Regions from separate parts of the Homo sapiens genome. Here region 2 is linked to region 1. A link means that fine-mapping ties the variant in region 1 to the expression of a gene that starts in the linked region. Tissue or cell type: monocytes. Region 1 holds a variant in brackets; the other region holds the start of a gene. All regions are shown on one strand. Distances are from middle to middle.

Region 1 (8,000 bases):
TCCTCTTTGTTTTCATAGTAGTCCTCTACTTAGCATGTAAGCAATTTCTACCACATTTTTTTCAGTTTCCTCCAAATAGTTTAAGTGACAATTTATCTAGTGATGTAGATGCTTATAACAAGTTTGAGCCTAGAATGGTTTCCGAGAAATAGGTTATATACAAAGCAGTGCCGCCCTTACCAAGATTTTTTTGGTCTGATGACACTAGGTGGTAGCAGGGGTTTGTCTGATGGCCTGTTTTATCTTTTGTTAGTTGTAATAAATTAAAACACTGTGGCTATACCCACTGTCTCTTGAGTCCACCGTGACCAAGAGTAATGTCTGAAATAAACGTAATAAAGCCTGCCCATCAAAGAGGCTAACACAGAACTGCAAATTTACTGCTATAGATGGCTGTGGAAACAAAATCATAGTAGTCATCGATTATCTGCATAATGTTAAAAGATATAATTTACTCTAACTCTTAAAGGATAGAAAAAGGGCCACTTTGTTTGTTTTTTCAGATTATAAGGCACTTGGTATCTTAAAGCGGCAGTTCCCTAACGCATCACTAATTGGGCTGACTGCAACTGCAACAAATCACGTTTTGACGGATGCTCAGAAAATTTTGTGCATTGAAAAGTGTTTTACTTTTACAGCTTCTTTTAATAGGCCAAATCTATATTATGAGGTATGTAATTTTTATGTCAATTCCTTACTTTTGTGAAGAATTACGCAGAGGGGATCTGCCTTTTTATTATGTTTATTTACATGAGCAGTTAAGTACTTACAAAAATTTTTAACATTAGGAGGTAATTATAAGTAGATTCTGTGATTAGGGCTTCATTCATGTATCTTTTGCTACATAAACCTTTGTTAGATTAAATGGAAGACACCTGCTAGGTGATACTTTTTATAAAACATATGAGTAAGTCATATATCTTTGTTAAATTTCTGTATGTTCTTTTTTGTATAAAGATGGAGAGAAAGGATGGAGTGATACTAAGGACCCTAATAACATCTCTGTTCAAATTAATTACTAAGTGATAGAAGTATTCATATGCCATTAAAGATTTGCCAATTCTATTTGAATTTTATTTGATAAACTTGAAAATCAAATAACCTAACAGCTGTCTTTTCTTTCTTTCTAAACCCTTTTAAGAATAGATTTAATATTTTTCTGAGTTTTCATTAAAGAGTTATTTATGTTACGGTTTGTTTTTATAAAAGTAGCATCGCAAAATAAAAAAGTCTGCATCCTTGCAAGTTATTCACTGCTCATGTGCTTGCTCTTCTCTGGTAAATTAAAAAAATAAAGATCAAGAAGAGTCTGGGAGGAGGAACAGATGAGTCAGATGGGTTGAATCCTGTGAGTAAGTGAAAGAGTAATAGGAAAAAAAACACTATGGTCATGAAAGAACTGCATCCTGAAAGTTGTACATAGACAGCCACTTGGATGGTACTCATTCATTTACTTTTTAATAAGTTAAGTTTTTTTTAGGTTCGGCAGAAGCCCTCAAACACTGAAGATTTTATTGAGGATATTGTAAAGCTCATTAATGGGAGATACAAAGGGCAATCAGGTAATGTAAAAACAAACCAACTTTGGAGACAGAGATAACTTTCAAAAAGTGACTTCATATCATATTGATAATTATACTGATAACTGAATAACACCAAAAAAAATTAATGTATAGCAGAAGATACTTGAAAATACGTGATAAAATTAATTCACTTGATCTTAGAAATTGGGTGTGACATTTGCTTATGCCATAGATTATGAGTCGTCAAATTGCCTGATTTATTTTTGCTTATTTACACTTGCTTTAGAATAGACCTGATGACTTAATGTTAATTATCAACAGCACATATTTAGTATGTATCCACTGTGTACAAAATAGTGGATTAAGCAACTGATATTCTAAAGGGATAGAAAATATACTCCCTTACAGTAAAGGACACGTTAAAGCAATAAATAAATCCAGTAGTACATACTGAATAGATTAAGCACAGATCGAGTTGTGAGTATATATACATGGTTTTCTGGGTTTAATGACTAAGCAAATGTTACTGAAGCAAAGAATTTGTGTGAAAGTAGCATTTTAAACTGTTCTATAGATTTTCAGGAGGTAGTCCTGGGTAAAAGGAGTTCTAGGGTCAAATGAATTTGAGAAAGGTTGCAGGTATTTATTCTGCCTGGATGTTCACAGGGTGTATCAGCAAACTAGAAGCTCTGACCATCCCTGAAAATAAAGAGAGACACCCATTTAACTTTGTTGAATGCAATGTTCTCCAAATTAATTTGCATGCAAATTAATCTAAATTAACCCAAAATTAATCTGGAGAACACTGCATTCATAGCACATTTGTTAGCATCTTACAGACATCAGTTTGAGAAATACTGTTTAGTGGGAGATAAAGTTAAAGAGAGAAAAGAGATAACAGGAACAAAAACTGATGGCTCAGGCTCATTTCTGCTTTAAAGGAAGCTGGTGCTCAAATCTGGAATTATACCAAAATGTCAATATATGCACAAGGCCTTGAAATTTTTCATAATTCTTTTTTTCCTTCTGTGCATTGTATTAATCAATGTCCTGAATGTGTGTGTTGAAAACCATCTTCCAGGAATATGCCATATCTATCTAACAAATGCACATATTTTACTGCAGGAATCATATATTGTTTTTCTCAGAAAGACTCTGAACAAGTTACGGTTAGTTTGCAGAATCTGGGAATTCATGCAGGTGCTTACCATGCCAATTTGGAGCCAGAAGATAAGACCACAGTTCATAGAAAATGGTCAGCCAATGAAATTCAGGTTAGGTCTATATCTTCCATAGAAGCCTAATTTACCTTTAAAATATTTAAACTTGATTTAATTAACTGATAAAATGTTAAAATATTTCAGGTAGTAGTGGCAACTGTTGCATTTGGTATGGGAATTGATAAGCCAGATGTGAGGTTTGTTATCCATCATTCAATGAGTAAATCCATGGAAAATTATTACCAAGAGAGTGGACGTGCAGGTATGTAGGACTCAAATCCAGAAGTAAATTTTTAGAAAGCTTTTCCAAAAAATACATGATAAATGCTTAATAAGTCTGTATGTTTTATCTTTATTGGATAGTATTTTTAGAACAATGTATTTTTAGCAGTTTGACACTTACTTGCATATGGAGAAATTTTTACTTATGTTCTGTTATCTGAATTGTTTCTTTTTATGTGTGTTAAGATAATTTGATGTTCATCTTTGCCTCCTGAATTTTTAATTAGTGATTTCAAATCTATAACTTAACTGGATTATAGACACATTTTTTAACTTAGTAGAGCTGATTATTGATGTCTCTTTAGAGTTTTTTTTAATTTGAGGGTACCCATTACAAATTAACTTCCACATCTCTAAAATTTCTAGATGTAGTATAAAACATTGCCTGCTAATTTTACCATATGTCATTTTTGCATATTTTGAATTTGTAAATGTAATTCTGCAATCTCAAGGTTTCTCACACCACAGGTCGAGATGACATGAAAGCAGACTGTATTTTGTACTACGGCTTTGGAGATATATTCAGAATAAGTTCAATGGTGGTGATGGAAAATGTGGGACAGCAGAAGCTTTATGAGATGGTATCATACTGTCAAAACATAAGCAAGTAAGCCACATACCTTTTTATAACTTTTATCAATTAAAGCAAATATGAAAGTATATGACATCGTTTTTAAGTTCTTACTAAATACATTGGTGGAACACCAAAGTGCAGATCCATAAAAGCAGATGTTGGAGGGTAGGAACCAGCACATCAACCTGTATGATCTGCCTTAGTTCAAGAAAAGATGCCCTATCTTTGAGATAATCCTCCAAAACTACTTTTTTAATTGAAGGTTTTTGAGACACATTGATAGCAACTTGAAGGCTTTTTTTCTCTGGCACTGCTGTACAGTTACATGATTTAATAATTTTGAAAAGGTCTATGGTTAAGATAGGCATTTTGAGAGTCAAGCTCAGTAACGTGCCACCTTGCCAGCTCATGTGTCAATGAAATACCAAGTTTCTCCTTAAGAAGTAAGTTTAAATCTACTTAGGGTGGCTTTAGACTAGATAGCTTCCTGAAAGCTTTCTGTCATAGTTATCTTTGTGCTTTTATTGCCTATCACATAAGAAGTGCTCAGAAATGTCGAGGTGGTAAATAGCAGCCAGACAGTGATAGAAATGTTCTTTCTTTCCAATAGATACTACAATAATCTAGTTAAAAGAAATGAGAAAATGAAAATGTCTTCCAAAGGCCAGTAGAGTCTCATGAAGCATATTTTAAGGTTTCAACTCAAATATTGCTACTTTATTAAAATATAAGAAACTATTTTACTGTCAAGAATATTCTCCTAATAGTTGCAAAACATTGAATTTAAAAATGGAACTCAGACAATTTTTTAAACAGTGTTTATCAAGAATATGTGGGGAAAAAAGTCCTATGTCGGGGGCACA[A/G]TGGCCCCCCAAAGATGTTCACGTCCTAATTCCTAACCTGTATGTTACCTCACATGGCAAAAGGAAAGTAGCATTGCACATGGAATTAAGACTGTTCATTAGCTGACCTTAAAATAGGGAGATTATTTTAGATTGTGTGATGTGAGAAGAACCTGACACTCTGATTTTGATCCAGTGAAACCCATAGTACACTTCTAAATCTAAACCACAGAAATGTAAGAATAAATGTGTTTAAAGCCACTAAGTTTATGGTAATATTATGGCAGTTATAGGAAGCTAATACAGTATATAACTATGTAAGCTGAAATAGAGATTCTTAAAACTTTATTATATCCTTTAATAATTTGTATCTTTAAATGTGTTTGCAGATGTCGTCGTGTGTTGATGGCTCAACATTTTGATGAAGTATGGAACTCAGAAGCATGTAACAAAATGTGCGATAACTGCTGTAAAGACAGTGGTGAGTTTGTTGTTTTGTAAACCTTTATAGGCTAATACAGTCATAATGCCTAGTGACAGAGATACGTTCTGAGAAATGCATCACTAGGTGATTTTGTCATTGTGCAAACATCAAAGTGTACTTACATAAACCTAGATGGTATAGTCTCCTAGGTGATATGTTATAGCCTATTGATCCTAGGCTACCAATCTGTACAGCGTGTTACTGTACTGCATACTGCAGGCAGCTGTAACACATGGTTAAGTATTTGTGTATCTAAACATAGAGTAAGTACAGTAAAAATATGGTATTATAACCTGGGTGACAGCGAGACTCCGTCTCAAAAAAAAATATATGGTATTATATAATCTCTTGGGACCACTGGCATATACGTGGTCCATCACCGACCAAAATATTATGTGGCACAAAACTGTATATACAGCTGGGACATGAGAGAAGTATTAGACTTCCAAATGGATTTAAAAGATTAAAGTGTGAATCAGATTTTCCAGAATTAAAACTATCAACATGAAGTTTTGAAACAAAGGTGAATAAAAGGAAAAGTCTTATGTGTATGCACACATTTTATATTGCTATACTGAGGATGTGAAATTTTTAATAAATGAAGGAAAATATTTGAATTTTTCTGAATAGAAATGCTATTCTATAAGAAAAGGGAAACCATGTGATAATCTCTAATACTTTATAGTCACTAATTGAAAAGAAAATTTAGTGCAAAATAGAGACTATAGAGAATCACTTTTGATCCAGTTAATGGCTAGTCATCGGAGATTTACTTAAAATTCTTTTAAATGTAGATCAGCAGGATTTGTTTTCTGAGCATTGGTCACAACCCTGCTGATCAAAACAGGATCTGGTCAAAACAAGATATAGCAAAGAAACTGGCCCAAACAAGTTAGAACTAGAAAATATAATGTATTTGCATGATGTAAGACACTCCCACTAGCACCATGACAGTTTACAAATGCCGTGACAATGCCCGAAAATTACATGGTTCTAGGAACTCCCTAACCTTTTCTAGAAGATTCATGAATAATCTTCCCCTTATTTAGCATATAACTAAGGAGCAGCTATAAATACCGCTAGTGAGCAATGTACAGTGCCACTCTGCCTTTGGGGTAGCCCTGCTCTGTCTATGGAGCCGCCATTTTCCTATACTCTATTGCTAATAAACTTGCTTTGCTTTCACTTTACTCTGTTGGCTTGCTCTCAGATTGTTTCTTGCATGAAACTGGGAACCCTCCTGGGCTGAGTCCCAATTTTCGGATTTGCCTGCAGCATTTTGGCACTATATTTTAACTTTTTTTCATCCGTGTGTTGTATTTCAAGATCTGGACTAGCCAGTACCTCATGGTAAGACCTTACTGAGTTCTGATGCCTTGTTAGGTGGAAGCCACTGTATTTTTAACTTTGCAGACAGAGAAATTTATGAGTTTATTAGACTATCTTATAAAATAACAAGAGTGTTATATATAAATCAGAGTACTGGTCTCTTAATAATTGGGTTATCAGTTGAGGACATTCTTGTTGCTAAATCAGAGTTCACTCAGGAGCCTATACTAGAACAGACAGGGTCTCCTATAAAACACACCTCTTAGTAACTTAGTAATCATGTCTGGCAGACACTTTCTGATTTCTAGAGTATATGGCAGGGCTTCTGATAACCAATTTTTTTTTATATATATCACTGTAAACCCCACAATGCTTACAGAGACCATAACTTGGTCTAGTGACAGAGACTTGAGGAATAGCCTAGTCTTAATTCAGAATACATTTAAAAATCAATGTTTAGGGTGGCTCACATTGATAACCAGCTTTAAACCAGTTTAACTACTTAAGATAGCCTATCTTTGCCCTCATTTCTAAATCCTAATTACCTGCTACCATATTTGTTTTATTACAGCATTTGAAAGAAAGAACATAACAGAGTACTGCAGAGATCTAATCAAGATCCTGAAGCAGGCAGAGGAACTGAATGAAAAACTCACTCCATTGAAACTGATTGATTCTTGGATGGGAAAGGGTGCAGCAAAACTGAGAGTAGCAGGTGTTGTGGCTCCCACACTTCCTCGTGAAGATCTGGAGAAGATTATTGCACACTTTCTAATACAGCAGTATCTTAAGTATGTACAAACTCATTCATTATTCTTTCAGGTTGTCTTTATGGTTTTTTTTTAAAAATTGCAACAGAATAAACGGTTTTGCAGTTATTTTGTGTGAACTTTTAAATGCTATAGAAAGTAATTTACCTAAAACACTCAAACTTTAATCACTATAAATAAAAAAAAGTAACGAAAATATTTTCTTTAAAGGCTTTATTTGCATTCTTGTAAATTTTATTATTTCAAGTCAATGTGTTAAGAATTACTGCGCATATAGTTATTTCTTTTATAAATTTGTTTTCCGTGATTCCTTCAAAAGCTTTCTTATTGTTGGCCTTTATTTTCTGCAGAGAAGACTACAGTTTTACAGCTTATGCTACCATTTCGTATTTGAAAATAGGACCTAAAGCTAATCTTCTGAACAATGAGGCACATGCTATTACTATGCAAGTGACAAAGTCCACGCAGAACTCTTTCAGGGTAAATGGCTATTAATTTTCAGTTTTATATATTTTAAAAAGTATATTAAAGCCTATGGGATGCTTTTCTGTCATATTCCCCTAGGTCCAGTTGAACATGAGAAAAGTCAGTTTTCTGATTAGATTTCTGGGTATGGAAGAGAGAAAATATAGTTTTCTGTAAAGATGTAAGTGAAAGAATTTAGACTGGCCTTTTAACATAAACTAGGGGTTTCCAGTTTCTTGGAATGGGAGGACTCCGTTTGAATATCTAATTTTGTTATGCACTCTGCTCTTATTTGGTTGTGATTACTAATAGTTGAGAAGTCTGTTTCTGCTGTTCCAGTGGTTAGAAACCACTGTTTTAAACCAAATACTATCAAGTCTGCAAAAGCATGTCAAGTCAAGTGCCATTGTGTCTAAGGACATTTGAGGTCTTTAGAACTTCTCTCACAACGTAGCCCCTTTTATTCAAAATAGAGCTCATATTTGAATAGAAATTTGTAGATAAAAAACTA
Region 2 (8,000 bases), 36 kb after region 1:
CAGCTGCCATTGAAAGCTAGGCCCTGCCCTGACACTGAAGCTGCTGTAACTCTGAGCACACATGTGTTCCCATTCTTGGTTTCCCTGGCTGCCTCACAAGCATCCTCACCTCATATTCTATTACCAATATAGCAGTACGGGTACCTGCACCCTAGGCACCAATATCATTACAGTCCCAGATCCCAGAACTTTAATTCCTCCGTGTATGCCTGTGTTTTGGGCCTCAGCTCTATCTGCTCCATAGGCACCACTTATCAGACACCAGCGCTGCTGCCACTGAACCCAGAAGGCAGACTCAGTGCCAACAGGGATCCCCTAAGCCACAACTTCCTTTGTGGGAGAAGAAAAGATTGGGAGGCTATTAGCAGCCATTGACATTGAAAACCCCAACAACCCTCACTACCACTGCAGACATCCAGAGTTGGATGCTGAGGATCCCTGCAATCTTCAACAACAATTAACTCAGCTGACGGAGCTGCACAGACTACAAAGTGGGCACCCTCACTGGTGCCAGAACTGCTACATCCCATCTAGCAAGCAGCCCTCCCCATAGGGGAAGGTCTTTCCACAGCAAAACTAGCCCATACTTCTGAAAACAGCAAGTGTGTCATCAAATGTGCAAACATCAACATAAGGCAGTAAGAAACATGATAAACCAAGAAGATATGCCACCAAAAGAACACAAATGTCAGAACTGCCTAAGAATTCAAAATAATTGTTTAAAGAAGCTGAAGGAACTTCAAGAAGTTACAAACAATTCAATTAAATCAGAAAAACAATAAGCAACCAAAACAAAAAATTTAAAAAGTTATTTAAAAACTAAAGCAGAAATTCTGACGATGAAAGATGCAATGAATGAAACAAAAAAAAATGCAACAGACTATGTCAACAAGAGAACTGATCACACAGAAGAAAACATCTGTGAATCTGAAGACAGATTATTTGAAAATATACAGTCAGAAGGGAAGAAGAAGAAAAAAGAATGAAAAAGAACATAGAAGTAGGGAATTAAAGGATGGCATCAAATGAGCAAATCTTTGAATTATAGGCGTTATAGAAGGAGACAAGAAAGACAAAGGAGTAGAACATGTATTTAAAGAAATAACAACAGAAAACTTTCCAGGCTGGGCGCGGTGGCTCACACCTGTAATCCCAGCAATTTGGGAGGCCGAGGTGGATGGATCACGAGGTCAGGAGTTCCAGACCAGCCTGGCCAATATGGTGAAACCCCGTCTCTACTAAAAAATACAAAAAATTAGCTGGGCATGGTTGCGGGCGCCTGTAGTCCTAGCTACTTGGGAGGCTGAGGCAGGAGAATGGCGTGAACCCAGGAGGCGGAGCTTGCAGTGAGCCAAGATCGTGCCACTGCACTCCAGTCTGGGCAACAGGGTGAGACTCCATCTCAAAAAAAAGCAATCAATTCACCATAATCAAGTGGGATTTATTCAGGGATGCAAAGATGGCTTAAAATATGCAAATCGGTAAATGTGATATACCACATTAACAGAACAAAGGACAAAAATCATGACCATCTCTACAGATATAGAAAAAATATTCAACAAAATTAAACGTCTTTTCATAATAAAAACCCAACAATTAGGTATGGAAGGAAAGTACCACAACAAAAAAATGGTCATATACAAGCCTATAGCTAATAATATATTGAATGGAGAAAAGCTGAAAGCTTTTCCAAGATCAAGAACAACACAAGGATGCCCACTCTCACAACTTCTATTCAACACAGTACTAAAGTCCTAGCTAGAGCAATTAAATTAGGTGACAGAAAGAAATAAAAGGCATCCAAATTGGAAAGATTTTAAATAGCTTGACTTAGCCATTCCACAATGTATACATGTATCAAAACATCATGTTGTACAGCATATAACTGTACTTGTCAATTTTTAAGAAAGAAAAAAATACACAATTACCCTAACTGCTATGCAAGTTATTGCAATTTTTTCAAATTAATATTAACAAGTTATACAAAGGTTCTTACCTGCTTGAAATTTGTAACTGCTTTAATAACAGGAGAAGCTGTTACCAAGAGAATATCTTCCGATGGAAAGTGAGTAGCCAACTTATTTTTAAAAAGAGAGAAAAAAAATTAGGACAAATTACTTTAAGTACTGGTATATATGGTTTGGGGTTGAGAATAATGCAATTTTAATAATGTAATTAATCTAGAAAATTAAAAACCCACTGTTCCTCATCTAAAGGTCTCCATTATCCTTGGTCTTGATGGGGCAATGGTGAATAATATTAAACTCTGATACTGAGAAAATAATATTTACAGTAAACACTAACAAAGAACTCCTGAACAAGAAAAGTGATATAAAGAAATATCCTTTATTTACTTCAACTATTTTTTATACCAATTTAGAGTTATAATGCAGAGGATGAGAATAAACTATCTTCCTAATTACCAGTTAAACCAACTTCTATTTATCTTAAAATAATATTTCATTTGTCTTCAATGGGATGAAATTAAAGCAAACCCTCAATATTAAACACTTAGAATATTGGTCTAACTTTCCCCAGGTGCTCTGGCACTCCTATTCTGCCTCTTCCAGTCAGTACATATTGTGGGACGATAAAGCCATTTTAATAATTGCTTCCACAAAATTTAGAGGTATAACTTGTTAATGTTTCATTATTTTCCTTTAGCTACAACCTCGGTCTTCTTCACTCTGTACCTGAAAGCATTTTCTTATCTCAAAGTCTGGTTCCTCGACACCACCACCCTCAATAATCTGGCTTCTATTCCTACTCCATCACTAAAACAGCATGTTTGAGGGATCTATGAATCCTTAAAATCCAAGGGATTATTTATTTTTTTTTTAATGGAGATGGGATCTTGCCATGTTGCCCAGTCTGGCTTCAAACTCCTGGACTCATGCAATCCTCCCACCTTGGCCTCCCAAAGTTCTAAGATTACAAGTGTGAGCTATCGTGCCCAACACCCATGCGATTCTTCTCAGTCTCATTTTATTTGAACTTTCTATATTTGACAATATCATTACTCTCTCCATCTTTCTTTCCTCTGTATATTCTGTAATTTATATCTCTGCTGTTTCCATTGCTAGATGAGGTCCTCAAAACTTCTTTATACTACTGAAATCACCTTCGAATTGGCTCTCCAGTTTCACGTATAAACCAGCTGCCTCTGCCACAAATACATTGTAACTAATCATCTTTCAAGCCTTTTCATATGATCAAGTTACTCCACTGCTCAAAAACATTTGACTACTTGTAAATTCTTGTTAAGTTCTCAGCATGCTAAGACTCCTTATGATCTATGCTTTAAGCTTTACTGCTCCCTGATGATCCATGCTTTTCCACTGGAGATGACATTCTTTTCTTGAATACTTGGTAAACTTTCACTCATTCTTTCATAATGAGATTTTAAAAATACCTTCTTTGATTAAAAAAATTTCCTCTTCCCTAATTCACTCCCTACATACTCCACAGGCACCTCTAAGATAACCGTTGATATCTCTTGCATAGACATACAATATTGTAATATTGTCTCTTCCAGCAGGCTGTGAGTCCCCAGCATGGTATATACCATGCTGTTCATAGTTGAACACTCAGCCCTTAATACGGTGCCTGCATCATATATGTTTACTTAGTGAATAAACGGAAAATACGCATCCAACGATGGAAACACTTGAGTTTCTTCCACTATTTCTTATGACTTCAGTGATTGCTCATGTTTACTTTATATCAACAAAATAATGTAGAACTTTTTGGAATACACACATGTATCTGAATATATATGGTCTGGCTATTCAGTATAATCAAGAAAGCAAGCCCTACATGCATTTAATCCTTCGCTGATTATTTTACAAAACTTTACTAGAAATAAAGTTTCTTCTATCTTGGGAGTTCGAAGTATAGAAAACTTACATATGGGATTCTTTATTAATTAGTTAAGATGCACTAAAGACTTGGCAACTATCTGGAAACTAAACTCAATCACCTACGATAATTAACAAAGGGGGCTGAGGGCCGGGTGCTGTGGCTCAGGCCTGTAATGCCAGCACTTCGGTAGGCGGAAGCGGGCAGACTGCTTGAGCCCAGGAGTTCGAGACCAGCCTGGCCAACATGGTGAAAGCCCGTCTCTACTAAAAATACAAACATTAGCGGGGCGTGGTGGCTGGCGCCTGTAATCCCAGCTACAGGCTGACGCAACAGAAGAATCGCTTGAACCCGGGAGGCAAAGCTTGCATTAAGCCAAGATCGCACCACTGCCCTCCAGTCTGGGCGACAGAGTGAGACTCCGTCTCAAAGAAAAAGAAAAAAAAATAAAAAGAAAGGGGGCTGAATTTTTTGTCTAAATACAAAGTCCTCATGTCTGCTCTGACATTACAAGGATCTGAGCACGGATCAGCCAGCTTTGGTTTCTCGGCTATAATTTGCCTCCCACTCCTCCCTGCGCCTAAGAGAAAGCTAGTGAGGTCATCTGAGGACCACCAAGCAGTTTCTAAAATCTGGGAGCAATAAGTGCGGAAAAGGGCGCAGCAAAAAAGGAACCCGGAAGAAGAAAAAGGGAGGGGGTGGGAGGAAGGCCTCCAGTGCTATCCCCTTTGGGGTCGGGGAAAGAGGCGGAACCGCCTGAGCACCGCCCTACCTGCTCCGCACAAGTGACGCCCGCGATGCCGCCGCCGACCACCACGAACTTCCCTGCCGTCGGGGGAGGGCGCGCTGCCTCCATGCTGCCGGACTCCCAGTGGTTTACTGAATATCGCGGCGGAGCAACGGGACTCTGGACTCCAGGAGAGGAAGCAGCCGCGAGGCGGTCACTTCCGGTGCCTTACCAGATAATCCGACCTACGGGTGCTCGGGAGCTCACACTACTCATCTCGAGTACCTGCTGCCGGCTGCGTTTCGGAAGCAACGAATTGTCTCGTGGTGTTCAGAGCTTTGCGTTACTATTACTACACCTGAATGTAGTTATTCCATGAAAATTTGACAAAGAGAAAACCAAAAAATTAAAAATAAAAAAGTAAAGAAGATGGGTTGCCCAAAGAAGTTTGATAAATTACATATCTAAAGATAGACCAGTGTTCTCACGGGACAAAACATTCATATAATAAATGAATTGGTGTGAAGTTCTCATTATTTGTTTCTGCGAGAAATTAGAGGCACAGATTTTATGCTCTTATGAGTAGAAGGAGCCTTCGGGAACATCCTGACCCCACTCCTGTCATTTTTGTAGATGAAGAAACTTGAGTCTTCTGAAAACCACTTGATTGCCACCGTTCACCTAACAATCCAAGATTTTTGTTTGTGGAAGCACAAAAATTCTTCATGACAAGGCAAAACAATACTACTGAATTGTTCTCTAAAAAATCATCCTTTTCATTTACAACTTTGACCTCAGCTAAAGTTTCCAGGAAGAATGTACAGTTGCTTTCCATTTTGTCAAAACAAATGAACATTTCTTAAATTTCCAGTCAATAGCAGCATGTGTGAGGGTTGAATGAAATATTCCCAGTCTCGGTTTTACTGTGAATTTTTTTCGTGGTCAATTGTTTTTAAGAAATTGCTAAATCATTTTTAACTGTTTTTACTATATTATTCACTATTCATATTATTTTACTATTTACTATTACCTTTGCTGTCTCATATAACTTTCCCTAGGAGTTGTTTTGTAATGGTAAGGTATTATCTCTCAAATGGTTCACTCTAAAACTGGTAATTACCCGAGTCCCTTTAATTCTTTAAACACTGAGAATAACCATTATATATTAACAGGAAAGCCTACCACGTATCTAATTACAGGCATTTACTGATACCTGTAAAAATCATTGTTCTTTGATTTACCAAGTTAAATGGTAAGCGGTTTAATAAACGTGTCTAATTCCTGTTACTAGTATAGCAACCAAACAAAGCATTCATTTCTAGGAGGAGGAAATACATTCCTTAAGCCCATTTAGATCTCATCTTGCTTCAGCTTATTTTCACATTATCTCACTCACACTGTGTTCCATTCAGGCCACACTACACTTCCAGATCCCAGGATATGCCATTTTCTTTCTGAGCATTTGCACATATCTTTTTCCCAACTACTTTTCCCTGGCTAACTCATCAACCTTTGGTTTCATCAAGCCATTGCTTCCCCTTTAAGATACTTTATCTAACATCCTCAAGACAGCTAGGTGTCCTCTCCGTGTGTTCTTATAGCACTTTGTCATCCTCTAAATTTAGACTTATCCCACTTTATTGTAAATTCTTACTGCCTGACCCCACCACCACCATAAACTGCTTACATAATCTCAGGGATTATTTTTGTCTCCCTTTGTATCTCCAATGTTTAGTAGGGAGTATGTATTCAACAAAAATGTGCTCAACGAAATAGGAAGTTGGTGGAGCATGAAACTCCCCTGAAGTCCTTCTAAAGATTTTTAGATTCATTGTCCAGGGTCAGGATCCTCTTGTATATTGTGACAGGGGTTTCCTCTTTATGGAAGTCGGAAGGAAGAATGGAGTGGAATTTAAGCTCCCAGGGGAAACGGAAGGAGATCATCGTCTGTGGGAGGGGAAGCAAAGTAGTAGGAGGCTCCTCAAATGTAAAGGGGTAATGACTCCACACTCTCCTTTTTTCTTCCCCTTGTGAAGGCTGGCTTTTTTGTCAAAGGTGATGTAGGGATAAGACCTAGCTGCCTGCCACACTGGCATGAATATCCAACTTTTAGAAATGTCTAAGGGTTAAAGAACTTTCAGTGCATCTCACCTTAATGTTGATTAAATTAGATACATATACTGGATGTAAAGTGGGTTAAAAGTAAGATGTAGGTAACTTGAAACATGTTATCCACAGGGAGGGCAGCAATAGGTACAGGTTAGGAGAAAGGGCAACTGCAAAGAAAACTGGGCACCTAGAAATAAGGGAGGCCCAATGCCAGGAAGCAGCAGAGAAGCAGAAAAGACAGAACTTCAGCTCCCCTTTAGCTCTGGTCAGCAAGCTTAGGAGTGACCTGGTGACTGTTTCTGAGGAGTCAAAGAAATACCAGTGTATTGCTAAATATTATGGTGTATGTTTATGGGTGGAAAAGAAAAGCAGGACTTGGCAAAGAAAGGTTCAGAGAAGAAGTGGAATTTATATTGAATCTCAAAGGCCCATAGCATTTGGATAGGTTCAGAAGAAGATGTGGCAAGTCATGTGGGAAATATCCCAAGAACCAAAGGCTTAGCAGCAGGAATGAGCATGGGAAATACAGGAGATGGTAAAAGGGAAGAAAGAAAGAAAAGTGGTTGGGGAGTTCAAGATTCATGTGGAAAAACTGAAGGAGATAAAGCTATCTTCTTCTATTTCTCTCCATAATGTTGTTACATCTGATTCCCATACCCACCTAATCTCTTGAAGGCCATCCCCAACTTTCAAACTACCATCAAAATCTAGTCTTCCATTCTTCTTCAAGTTGATATCAGAAATGCCTAGAATAGGAGTATTGAGGTTAATTTTCAACTGCAAAAATTGGGAATGAATAATGACATTTCATAGTTGGTGATTAATAGCTTTTGAGTCAGATGACCTAGGTTCAAATGTGGCACCAGCATTTCTTTGTTGTGTGACCATTCAGTGAGTTATTTACCTCATCTGAACCCTAGTTTCCTCATTGGCAAGACGGGTATAAGATCTACTTTGTAGAGTTGTTTTGATGCATGTGTGAGGCAACATATTTAAACTTCCTAGCATAGTGCGTGCCTCTTAGTAGGATTAATGGTTAAGTTGCCTGCCTGTGCCCTGTTGAATAGACTATGTTTCTCTGTCTAAAGGATTTTATCTATGATCATAACCTTAACAAGCCTATTATGCTTTTAACTCCCAAATGTCTATCTCTCATGCAATCTACTCTGAATCTTCAAGCCTGAAATTTCTGAAACATCTTGGATATCTTCTCATTTTTATCTTGGTTTTTGCCAATTCGCTGTAAGTACAGCCTGGATTCATCTTGCACTCGAAACCTCTTCTTTGTTTTGTTAGTTCATATAAC

Evidence for each region. PIP is the estimated chance that this variant, and not a neighbour inherited with it, causes the effect.
Region 2: it holds the start of PYROXD1, and the variant in region 1 is fine-mapped to the expression of PYROXD1 in monocytes (Quach 2016, PIP 0.94).

The regions. Positions count from the first base shown.
Region 1 is chr12:21,470,473-21,478,472 of GRCh38, reverse strand. PYROXD1 (pyridine nucleotide-disulphide oxidoreductase domain 1) reads right to left here. Exons shown (of 12, transcript NM_024854.5): 12 at 7,223-8,000. It overlaps RECQL (RecQ like helicase), which reads left to right. Exons shown (of 15, transcript NM_002907.4): 7 at 504-670; 8 at 1,481-1,562; 9 at 2,649-2,797; 10 at 2,888-3,005; 11 at 3,494-3,632; 12 at 4,831-4,922; 13 at 6,826-7,045; 14 at 7,375-7,504. Among named protein-coding and RNA genes, the nearest start is that of RECQL, 27 kb to the left of the region's middle. The variant A/G (reference allele first, on the strand shown) is at 4,463.
Region 2 is chr12:21,434,445-21,442,444 of GRCh38, reverse strand. PYROXD1 (pyridine nucleotide-disulphide oxidoreductase domain 1) reads right to left here and starts at 4,790. Exons shown (of 12, transcript NM_024854.5): 1 at 4,631-4,790; 2 at 1,997-2,077. The coding sequence starts at 4,714. RefSeq lists enhancers at 4,642-4,831, 4,882-4,961.